Linked DNA regions of Homo sapiens: region 1 is linked to region 2. Evidence: fine-mapped expression QTL. Tissue or cell type: unexposed skin. Region 2 holds a variant in brackets; the other region holds the start of a gene. All regions are shown on one strand. Distances are between the middles of the regions. Region 1 holds the start of LINC02175 (long intergenic non-protein coding RNA 2175). Region 2 overlaps ARHGAP17 (Rho GTPase activating protein 17).

Region 1 (5,374 bases), 110 kb after region 2:
TATTTTTTTTGTAGAGATAGGGCCTTACCATCTTACCCAGGCTGGTCTCGAACCTCTGGCTCAAGCAATCCTCCCATCTTGGCCTCCCAAAGTGCTGGGATTACAGGCGTGAACCACTATGCCACAGTTGAGTTTAGAATGTTTATTTAAAATCTTGTGACACTGAACTCAATGACTAGTTCTCGGAAAACTTACTTTTTAATAGTGTATTGTGGTGTAAGGCCTGAAATTAGGATTCATATCAAATTCTGTCTTTACATCCATTTAAATCAAGAGGGCCTCAAATGGCTGAACTCCAAGCCTCGCTCCCTGTCTGCTTCCGCAGATGAAATTCTCTGGCTAAACACTCTCCTTATTTTAGGGATCAGACACAGAGCCTGCTTATCCCCAAACAGTAGGCTTCAGTTCCCTGCCAGCTCAAGGACGAATTATTCAGACAAGCCAGTCACACCCTCCCGTGGGAACCAGGGCTCACTCTGCACTTTTGTTACTACAAAGCCTGCCTCCAGCAGCCCCTCCTTGTTACCGTGTTCCGGAGTGTAGCCTCCACATTGCCCTGCATAGTGTGCAGGGTCCTTCTCCCCTGGACTGGAGTATCTGTGACCAGTCAGCTGCTGTTGATTGCATCCGTCCTGCATCAAGTGTTGTGTGTTCGGCCATCCCCGTATCTCTGGGGGTGGGGACAGGGGCGGGGGCAGGAGCGTGGGGGGAAGGAATCCCTCTTTCATCAATGGAGTAAAGAGTGTGAATAAAACGATTGGCATCACAAACAGTGTGGCCCATCCTTGATTGAGGACCCCTGGTTAGCTTTAACTAGCTGCTCCTTTACTAAGTAGCTGGTTTTGTTTGTTTGTTTATTTATTTATTTAGAGACGGAGTCTTGCTCTGTCTCCCGGGCTGGAGTGCAGTGGCGCGATCTCAGCTCACTGCAACCTCCTCCTCCCGGGTTCAAGCGATTCTCCTGCCCCAGCCTCCCAAGTAGCTAGGACTACAGGCGCCCACCACCACACCAGGCTAATTTTTGTATTTTTAGTAGAGACGGGGTTTCACCATACTGGCCAGGTTGGTCTTGAACTCCTAGACCTTGTGATCCACCCACTTCAGCCTCCCAAAGTGCTGGGATTACAGGAGTGAGCCACCGTGCCCGGCCTAAGTAGCTGGTTTTATAAGGCGGCCAGGACTATTGAGAACATCACTGCCAGTTGCTGGCCAGCTTGCCCTTCAGCTAATGAGTTTTGTTATCTCAGTAGGTGTTGCCACTTCTTCCCACCCTGACGAACGTTAATGGACTGTATCTCCTTGTGAGGTCCCATCAGGTGTGGCCCGTGTCGGCCAGGTGGTTTCCCAGGCTCCCACCTGGGGGCAGCAGCAACACGACATCCTAACGGGTGGGTGCCTGAGTTCCACTAGAGTGAGGCTAGACTCTGTGGTCTTTGGTCTAGCCTCATGACCATCGCTCCATCACCGGCTGCTTGGGACAGCCAGGCAGACACTGTTTGGGAAAGTGTTCCAGCATAGTCCTGTGGATAACCCTTTTTCCTTTCCCCAAACACCAGGGTTTTTGGAACCATCACCTGGGAAGATTTAGGAATGGCTCCCTGGTGGTCTCCTAACAGCCTAAAGACCCCATGGGCTTTTCTTGGCGGTGTTGCTTATCTGCATGCCAAAGGACCAATCCTGTGGGCAAGGGGCTCGATGGCCCCACCTGGACCCTAGACAAAATGAACGTACTAGGGGGATCCCAGCACTGAAGATTTGCCTGGCCTTCCTGGGGGAGCAGTATGGCCGCCCACGGAGCCGGCTGCTGGTCTCCCTTTCCCATAACCTCCCGGAAGATCCACACCACGAATGATCTGATGGGGACAAAAACCCCGGGACTCGAGGGACCGTTGCGGCGGACCCTTAAAACACCTGGCAATCCCATTAAATTGAAACATGGTACATATTTTGCTCTTCTAGTTTTGGCTAATACGTTCTATTTAAAGGGTCTCCCAGCCACAGTTTGCCAGCGGGCAGGCGGCGCCGCAGGAAGTGACCGGGCAAGAACGGGGGTCGCCGCCCAGCTCGGCCTTCTGGTCTCTGCGCCCTCGGCCTGGGGCTCCAGGCCACAAGGGGAGGCCGTGCTGGGCGGGCCCGAAGGGGGTGGGCGGGGCCCCGGAAGAGACGTGGGGGCGGGGCCAACGGACCGCGGAGGCGGAGCCGCTACAGTCTGGGCGCTGGAGCGGTGGGAGCAGCGCTCGTCCGCCGTTGGGGCCCCCAGCCCGCGCGCGTGAAGCAGCTAGCCGACCAAGCCCCGGAAGGCGAGTGCCGGAGGGGGCGGGACAGCTCCTCCGGGGCCAGCGGGCACCAGGCTTGGGGGCTGAGGCCCAGCGGCCCGAGACCAACTGGGCTGACCGAGGCCGCCTCCCCGCCAGCCCTGGGGTCCACTGCCCGGGGAGCAGCTCCCTTCCCAGGTCAGACTCGGGCTTCATCCTCTCTTGCCGCGCGCCGAGCGGTTTTCAACTCTCACTGCTAGAATTCCTCCAACCACCCAGGATAGCAGGACCGAGATACATGGCCACCCATGACCCGGAGCGTCCACTTCCAGGGACAGGCAGTGGTGATTGGCTTCGGTTGTCATCTGTGCCATCTGTCCATGGTTCGAGAAGCTGCTGTTCACGTTTTGGGGAGGATCATGGTTTGAGGGCTCCCGTGGTAGAATTTGGGGAGCTCTCATAGGCAGAAGGCTGAGAAAAGTTGGTGCTGTGGGAAGTCAACTGGCAGCCGATGGAGTCGGGACCCGGGAGGAATGGAAAGGGAACCCAGATAGGAAGCTACTGCAGTAGGCTCAGAGAGGTGATGACGGCAGGGCTAAGACAGCGGCCTTGGGCGGTGACTGGGAAGAACGTTGAACACCGTGTTTGGGCTGAAGAAAAGAGCAAGGGAAGAGGTGAGGAACTTCAGGTGAGGGTTGATGTAGATGTTACTTACACAGGTAACAGACATTCTTCACCTTTTCATTGTTTTACAATGATTCATTCTCTCTCTCTCTAACATATAATTGTGATATTTTCACCTGTAGTCCCAGCTGCTCTGGAGTTTGAGGCAGGAGGATGGCTTGAACCCAAGAGGTGGAGGCTGAAGTGAGCCAAGATCGCGCCACTGCACTCCAGCCTGGGCGACAGGGCAAAACCCTGTCTCTAAAAAGAACTTTTTAAAAAAGCACCTGTAGATTTAAGCACATAATAACTACACTTTTGTCTGTTTTATTATGATATCAAAGTTAAATTTATGATGAATGACTAACTGGACAAAACTGAGAGCAACCACCACAGAGGTGAATATACTGAATGTATAACACTCTCTAATAATTTTAAGAACTCCGCTCTAATGAGCAGATATCACAGAAAGAGACTTTTCAGATGAAATACCGATGACCAGGAAATCTGTGAGACCATTTTAAAAAATTCGAAGTCATTGAAGAAATGCAAAGCTTCCAGGCTCCACTTTTCACTGATGAAATTGGCAGAGTTTGGGACAATGAGATGTTGCTGTCCCGGGAGTGCGGATGGGGCTGTGTCCTGTGATGGCGGTGGGCACTGGCACTCTTGTCCAGAAAGACATTCACCACTGTGGTTCAAGAAGCACCTCAAAGGTCTTCACCTTGGTCCCTTGTCCACCTCTGCCCGCGGTCTCTCCTCCTTTCAGCCTCCTCTTTCCCACACAGTCCCTCCCGCCCTGGCTTGGTCCCCTTTCTTCTGACTGGGTCAGGCATGTGGGTGACTCTTTGACTTCCAAGGCTCTGTCTACTTGGCTTTTTTCTTTCACCTGTTCTGCAGAATAACAGCCTGATTCGTTCCTCTTTTTGGGTCCTTCACTTCCATACCTGGGATTCGGGGCGTGGCCCAGAAAGACCCTGCAGTCTTGCAGTGTGGGGCTGCCAGCATTTCATGGCCTCCAAGCTCAGCTGGGCTGAATGAACGCTGCCATCCAGCGCTTGGCTCATTTTCTGTCCCATTTTCCTGAGTGCTTTTGCCAGACTTACACTTTTCTGAAAGCTACTCCACCCTACCCCAGACACACCCTCTCTCCTCGGATGACCTGCCTCCTAATTTCCTGAGAAAACTGGACATGGCCACCTTTCCCCAGTGTCTGAGGCCCAGGTTGACCCGTGGTCATGGTCGCTGTCACCACCCACCTGCCTGTATGACAGAGTGAGACCCTGTCTCAAAAAAAAATAAAAAGAATGCCTCATGTTAGGCTGGGTGTAGTGGCTTATGCCTGCAATCCCAGCACTTTGGGAGGCTGAGGCAGGAGGATAGTTTGAGCCCAGGAGTTCAAGGTCAACCTGGGCAAGAGAGGGAGACCCTGTCTCTACAGTTAATTTTTAAAAATTAAGGCAGGGCATGATGGCTCGTGCACGTAATCCCAGCACTTTGGGAGGCTGAGTCAGGACGATTGCATGAGCCCAGGAATTCAAGACCAGCCTGGGCAATGTAGAGAGACCTCCATCTCTACAAAGAATTTTTAAAAATTAAGGCAAGGTATGGTGGCTGATGCCTGTAATCCCAGCACTTCGGGAGGATGAGGTAGGAGGATAGATTCAGCCCAGGAGTTGGAGGCTGCAGTGAGCCATAATCACACCACTGCACTCCAGCATGGGCAACAGCGTAAGACCCTATCTGAAAATACATAAATAAAAGAAAAAGTTAGCTAGGCGTGGTGGTGCATTCTTGTGGTCCCAACTACTCAGGAGGCTGAGGTGGGACAATCACCTGAGTATGGGAAGTCAAGGGTGCAGTGAGCCAAGATGGTGCCATTGCACTCCAGCTTCGGTGACAGAGAGCCAGACCTTGTCACCAAAAAAACGAAAAGTCTCCTGTGAAAAATGACAATTTCCAGTGGAACAGTTATGAGGAAGAGATGGGATCTGCCTGGGCTTTTTCAGTCTTTTGGACAATCCAAGATTCCTCTAGCTAATGACTTCACAGTTGGTAACAGCTTGTTAGCTTTATGGTGTTTCTTTAATGTTTGTTAAATGTTCCTGGGATATAGATACCAGATTACAATTCACACCAGCCGGGAGGGACAATGGAAATTTCTTTAGGAGGCTTGCAGATCCCTTGGACCTAGGGCACCCAACCTTTTGGGATATTTAGGAGAAAAAGGAGGGTTTTACTTCCGTCTTCCCTGGGGTTCCAGATGAATGTGTCATCTTGGCTAGTCATTTAGAGTCATCTTATGAACTCTAAATGAAACTGAAGTCACACCTTTAACATTACTTTAAGGAAGAATCACAGAAGCCAACCTTAAATCACTTAAAATGAGAATGAAACTTGAAGCAATAGATAGGAAGAACCATTATCTGGTCTGTCCTGCAATTATTGGAAGTGTT
Region 2 (5,374 bases):
GAACCCAGGCACTGGATGGAAGAGAGGAAGGAGAAAAGGGTTCCAAGGTTAAGACCTGAATCACTTGGAGAAAGGTGATATAAGGGAGACAAGAAGGGAGAAAAGGGACAGTTGGAGTGGGAAGAGGACTGGTTTGCTTTTTGAGTTTAAGGTGAGTGCTGTTCATCAAAGGGAACCGATGCTTAGGAGGCTGCAAGGATTAAAATGCAGGTAAGAGGCAAAGCTGTCCAAGTAAGGGGATTTCTAGGGAAAAGGGGGCGAGGAAGTGAGGGTGGGAGAGAACAGAGGTGCAAGGACTGGACCTCAGAAAAGGCTGACTTCTGGGGTGGAGACAGAAATGAGCAATATATAATCCTTCTTGAAGAAAAATTTTTAAAAAGAAATGGAGCAATGCAGAGTCCTTACAATGAAAGAAGACAGTCGAGTGGCGTGAGGAGACAAAAATGAATAAGGAAGGGACGGCCCATGCCGGGTCAAATGCCAGGATCTGACGGGTGGTTGCTGGTCCTTTGAAAACTGCAGTATGTTTTGCTCTTTTTTCCTAAACAGCAGAGGGATTGGGGGTAGACACAAGAGTGCAAAGGATTCAGGAGTAGGAAGGTGGTAAGAAAATGCAGGTGGCAGGCAGGAAGGGGTCATCTGAAGTACCCACCAGAAAAAATGAAGGAGAACCAGATTAAACAGGACGCTGTGTTCAGGTCAGGAAGGTACCAGATTACCACCAACTGACCATGAATGTGACACCAGAGTCCACGGAGGTGAGGGGGCTGTGGGGGCAGGTCACACTTTTTTTATATAGTAAGGACAAGATAAGTCTTTCTGAAAACAGAGAAGACAGCAAGGAAAGAAAAGACAGAACTAAGATGAAAGGCAGGTACAAGGACAGGCAGAGGTGGGAGGGGTTGAATTGCAACTCGGTAAAGGGTGACCTCAGCAAGAAGGACAAATCGCACTTCCTCCACGGGCTGTTCCATCCTAACCTCTTTCCTGTCCCATCCCCGCTCTCCATGGCTTCCTGATGTATTTCTCTAGGGAAAATACCCTTGGGAAAAAAACAGAATGAGAGTTCTAGTCTAGCCTGGGCAACAGAGTGAGACTTTGTCTCTTTAAAACAAACAAACAAACAAAATGCGAAAAAAAATCCAATCTCTCGTTTTTCCTCTTGTTAATCAACTCTTTCAAATCAGACTCTCAGCCATTCAAAGGCTAAAATGATGATTTGTCTACTATTTTGTCCTATGCGGGGCCCAGCCCACAGCAGATATCTCATAAATATATTTTCTTGGTCCTCTGAACTTGCCCAGCAAGAGTCTGTCCCTAGAAAGGTGGGAACATTTTCCAGAGACCTCGTTCCTTTGCACTGTGACTCAACACCATCCTCCATGAACTAATAATCTTGATTATTTGGGAAGGCAAGGGCAATGGCTGAGAAAATCAGAAACACTGCCCCTGAGAATGCTGAAGATCTGACTATATGGTCAGGCAAGACATAAAATTTTATAATTCCATAATCCCAAAATTTTCAGGCACAAAGCCAGAACCTGTGAGGATCTCCTGGAACTTAGGGGGAGAAGAAGTCGCATTCTTGAAGGTGCTGGTATGTATGCACATCCACAAAGCATCCCCCCCACAACACACACAGACACATGCTCGGTCTCAAAATCACAAAGTCATCCCACTCAGCACCTGGCCTGATCCCCTTTCAGCTCAAGACCAGTGGTTCTGCAGAGGAGCATAAGCTCCAAATGTCAGGTCTACACCACAGGTGAAATAGATCCAAAGACGGCCGAGCAATTTCTGACTCAACAGCTGTGCTCATCTCTGCTGGTAAATGCTCTAATGGTAAATCAGAGAGACACAGCATCGAAAGCTTTAGGGAGAGAAAAAAAAAAAAGCAGCTTTAGATGCCCAACTTAAAATTCAACATAAGGGGAAAGTTCAGTCTGCACCTAACTTGCAGATACAATCTGCAGTGTGCTTGAATATGATAGGAGAAATATTAATGGTGATAAGAACAAAAGCTTAGTATAAAGACAAAGGAGGAGTCTGAACGAAGCGACCACGGTCTTAGGATTCAATCACACTTATTATTAAGTGTGACGTGCATGATGTGGCATCAAGTACTGGCTTCTCTTTTGGAAAGTCCAAAATATTTTCCCTAGAATGGATGCTCTTGGAGTCACATGGCCAGAATTAAGTCCTGTGGAACAAATAACTGATGTGGAAAAGGATCATTCAATGCTGGACTTTTTCAAGCCTACAGAAGATGGGAAAACACACAGG[T/C]ACTCCCCAAAGAGGCCAGCTTTCTCTTCAACTGAAGGTTTCAGAAGAACTACAAATGTTCCATTAGTGTGTTAATTTGGGTTTGGAAGAAATTAGAGAATGCAGCAAGGAAGATGAAATTATGCTGGGAAACAGTACCCTCCTAGGCAGAGAAGCTTTATCCCAAGGACGTGCATGCAGAGGAGTCAGGGTGAAGAAGAACCCAGGCAGAGGTGGCAGAGGCAAGAAGGAAGCATCAGCCGCACGCGGGTTACATTACCTTGATGGGCTCGCATTTCGGGGAGGGTCTTTTCTAAGACTGCTAATGCTTTTCTATGGTAATCTGCTTGGGCTTCTAATAACTGAGAACAGACCCACATTCAAAAACAAAAGTAACGTTAGCATCGGATGGACACACACACAATGGCTGAGCAAAACTAAAAATGAAATCTTTTGCAAAAAAGCTAAAATGACTCCATTTTAACAATGCTTTAACATTTTCTCAAGGGAAGGTGCTTACCGTAACAAAGAATTTGCCATACTCCCCTTCTTTGGCCATAAAGTTGTACATGTCTGCTGCAAGTTGATCCTGGGTAAATGGAAGATAAGAGGTTATTGAAGAAAAAAGAAGTGAAACAAAATGGCATCTGAGAACAATCTCTGTGAGCTCTTAGATGAAAAAGTGATGGAAAGCACCACAGATTAAATGTCCATCAACTGCCTGGTACAACCATACAGAAAGAATAAGGAGGCTTCTTACATGACTGACAAAGAAAGATCTCCAAGATATATTTTAACACATCTGTTTAAGAAGCAAAGTACAGAGCATTACTTATGGTGTATTAACATCTGGGTTAAAAAAGGGGTGGAATGGCCGGGCACGATGGCTCATGCCTGTAATCCCAGCACTTTGGGAGGCTGAGATGGGCAGATTACCTGAGGTCAGGAGTTTGAGACCAGCCTGGCCAACATGGTGAAACCCCGTCTCTACTAAAAATACAAAAATTAGCCAGGCGTGGGGGCGGGCAGCTGTAATCCTAGCTACTCGGGAGGCTGAGGCAGGAGAATTGCTTGAGCCTGGGAGGTGGTGGTTGCAGTGAGCTGAGATCGTGTGCCACTGCACTCCAGCCTGGCCGATAGAGTGAGACTCTGTCTAAAAAAAGGCTGGGTGTGGTGGCTCACTTTGGCAGGCCAAGGTGGGCGGATCACAACGTCAGGAGATTGAGACCATCCTGACTAACACAGTGAAACCCTGTCGCTACTAAAAATACAAAAAATTAGCCAGGTATGGTGGCGGGCACCTGTAGTCCCAGCTACTTGGGAGGCTGAGGCAGGAGAATGGTGTGAACCCGGGAGGCAGAGCTTGCAGTGAGCCAAGATTGTGCCACTGCACTCCAGCCTGGCAACAGTGCAAGACTCCGTCTCCAAAGAAAAAAAAAAAGGCAGGGGGTGGGTGGAAGGGTATGTCATATTTTTATTTTGTTTTTATTTATTTTTTTGAGATAGAGTCTCACTCTGTCACCCAAGCTGAAGTGCAGTGGCACAATCTTGGCTCACTGAAACCTCCACCTCCCGGGTTCAAGGAATTCTCCTGTCTCAGCCACCCTAGTAGCTGGGATTACAGGCGTGTGCCACCACACTTTTTGTATTTTTGGTAGAGACAAGGTTTTGCCACGTTGGCCAGGCTGGTCTCAAACTCCTGGCCTCAAGTGATCCACCCACCCCAGCCTCCCAAAGTGCTAGGATTACAGGCGTGAGCCACCACACTCAGCAATGTCATATTGTTATTGTCACATATGTATAAAAATATGTCTTGACAAAAAAACAAGAAATTAGTACAGTTATTACCTATTGGGAGCAATGGAAATTAGGCAGGAGGAGGATAATGGTAGAAGAAAGACTTCACGGTACACTGTTTTACACTTTTTCATATCTGACCTAATGTAAATGAATTACATATATAAAAATTAAATAATTTTGTGAACAGTGACAGGCTGAGTGTGGTGGCTCACACCTACAATCCCAGCACTTTGGGAGGCTGAGGTGGGAGGATTGCTTGGAGCCAGGAATTTGAGAACAGCCTGGACAACAGAGCAAGATCTAGTCTCTAAGTAAAAAAAAAAAAAAATTTTTTTTTTTTTTTTTTTTTTTTTTGAGATGGAGTCTTGCTTGCTCTGTAGCCCAGGCTGGAGTCTGGTGGCGCAATCTTGGCCCACCGCAACCTCCATCTCCGGGGTTCAAGCGATTCTCCTGCCTCAGCCTCCTGAGTAGCTGGGACTACAGGTGCATACCACCATACTCAGCTAATATTTTTCTGTTTTTTAGTAGAGATGGAGTTTCATCATGTTGGTCAGCCTGGTTTTGAACTCCTGACCTCAAGTGATCCTCCCATCTCAGCCTCACAAAGTGCTAGGATTACAGATGTGAGCCACTGCACCTGGCCAAAAAGAAATTTTAAGTGACAGATTAGGCAATTAGGTACGTATTTCCAATCTTCAAATATAAATATACATAGGAATTTTATATATATATATATATATGAAAACTTATATGCCGGAAAATATATATGTAGAGAGAGTTTGTTTTTTTTTTAATGTAATGACTTCTGTTTTTGGCATCAAGGTACACAAATTAATGTGAAGGGCCTCCCATTTATGACAAAAACTTGGAAATGCTAGTTAGAAGTAATGAACATCCTTTTATAATAACTGGGAAAGCAATAAAGTAAATTCCTTGATTCCCCTCAACCCCACCATACACACACACACACAAAGAGAGAAAGAAGAAAAAGAAGCAGAAAGAAAGAAAAAGTCGGAATGCTAAGCATCAATGGAAGCTGGAGATGACCTGGGGCAGATTTGTGCCAGTCTTGGTGACCAAGGTGTCTGAAGCCTTGGGGACTAGTAAGGAGAAACAAGTACACATATATCATGCATAAAGATAAGATTCCTGAAGAACTGTACTCTCAACGAAACAACAGATTAGAACAAATGCACTTAGCATCACATGGAAATCATGGGGAAGTATGTCTGTTTTGGAATGGGCTTTAGGTCTGAGAAACATTGGCCAAGAGATTTCACAAAACATAGGCCTGCTTTCAGGAGGGTTTAAA

Evidence for each region. PIP is the estimated chance that this variant, and not a neighbour inherited with it, causes the effect.
Region 1: it holds the start of LINC02175, and the variant in region 2 is the best candidate, but not a certain one, in a credible set for the expression of LINC02175 in unexposed skin (GTEx, PIP 0.82).

What each region holds. Positions count from the first base shown.
Region 1 is chr16:25,064,718-25,070,091 of GRCh38, forward strand. LINC02175 (long intergenic non-protein coding RNA 2175) reads left to right here and starts at 2,170. Exons shown (of 2, transcript NR_135197.1): 1 at 2,170-2,929; 2 at 3,062-4,238. It also overlaps the pseudogene SCML2P2. RefSeq lists a silencer at 2,073-2,462.
Region 2 is chr16:24,957,129-24,962,502 of GRCh38, forward strand. ARHGAP17 (Rho GTPase activating protein 17) reads right to left here. Exons shown (of 20, transcript NM_001006634.3): 8 at 2,783-2,851; 9 at 2,543-2,624. Among named protein-coding and RNA genes, the nearest start is that of ARHGAP17, 56 kb to the right of the region's middle. The variant T/C (reference allele first, on the strand shown) is at 2,284.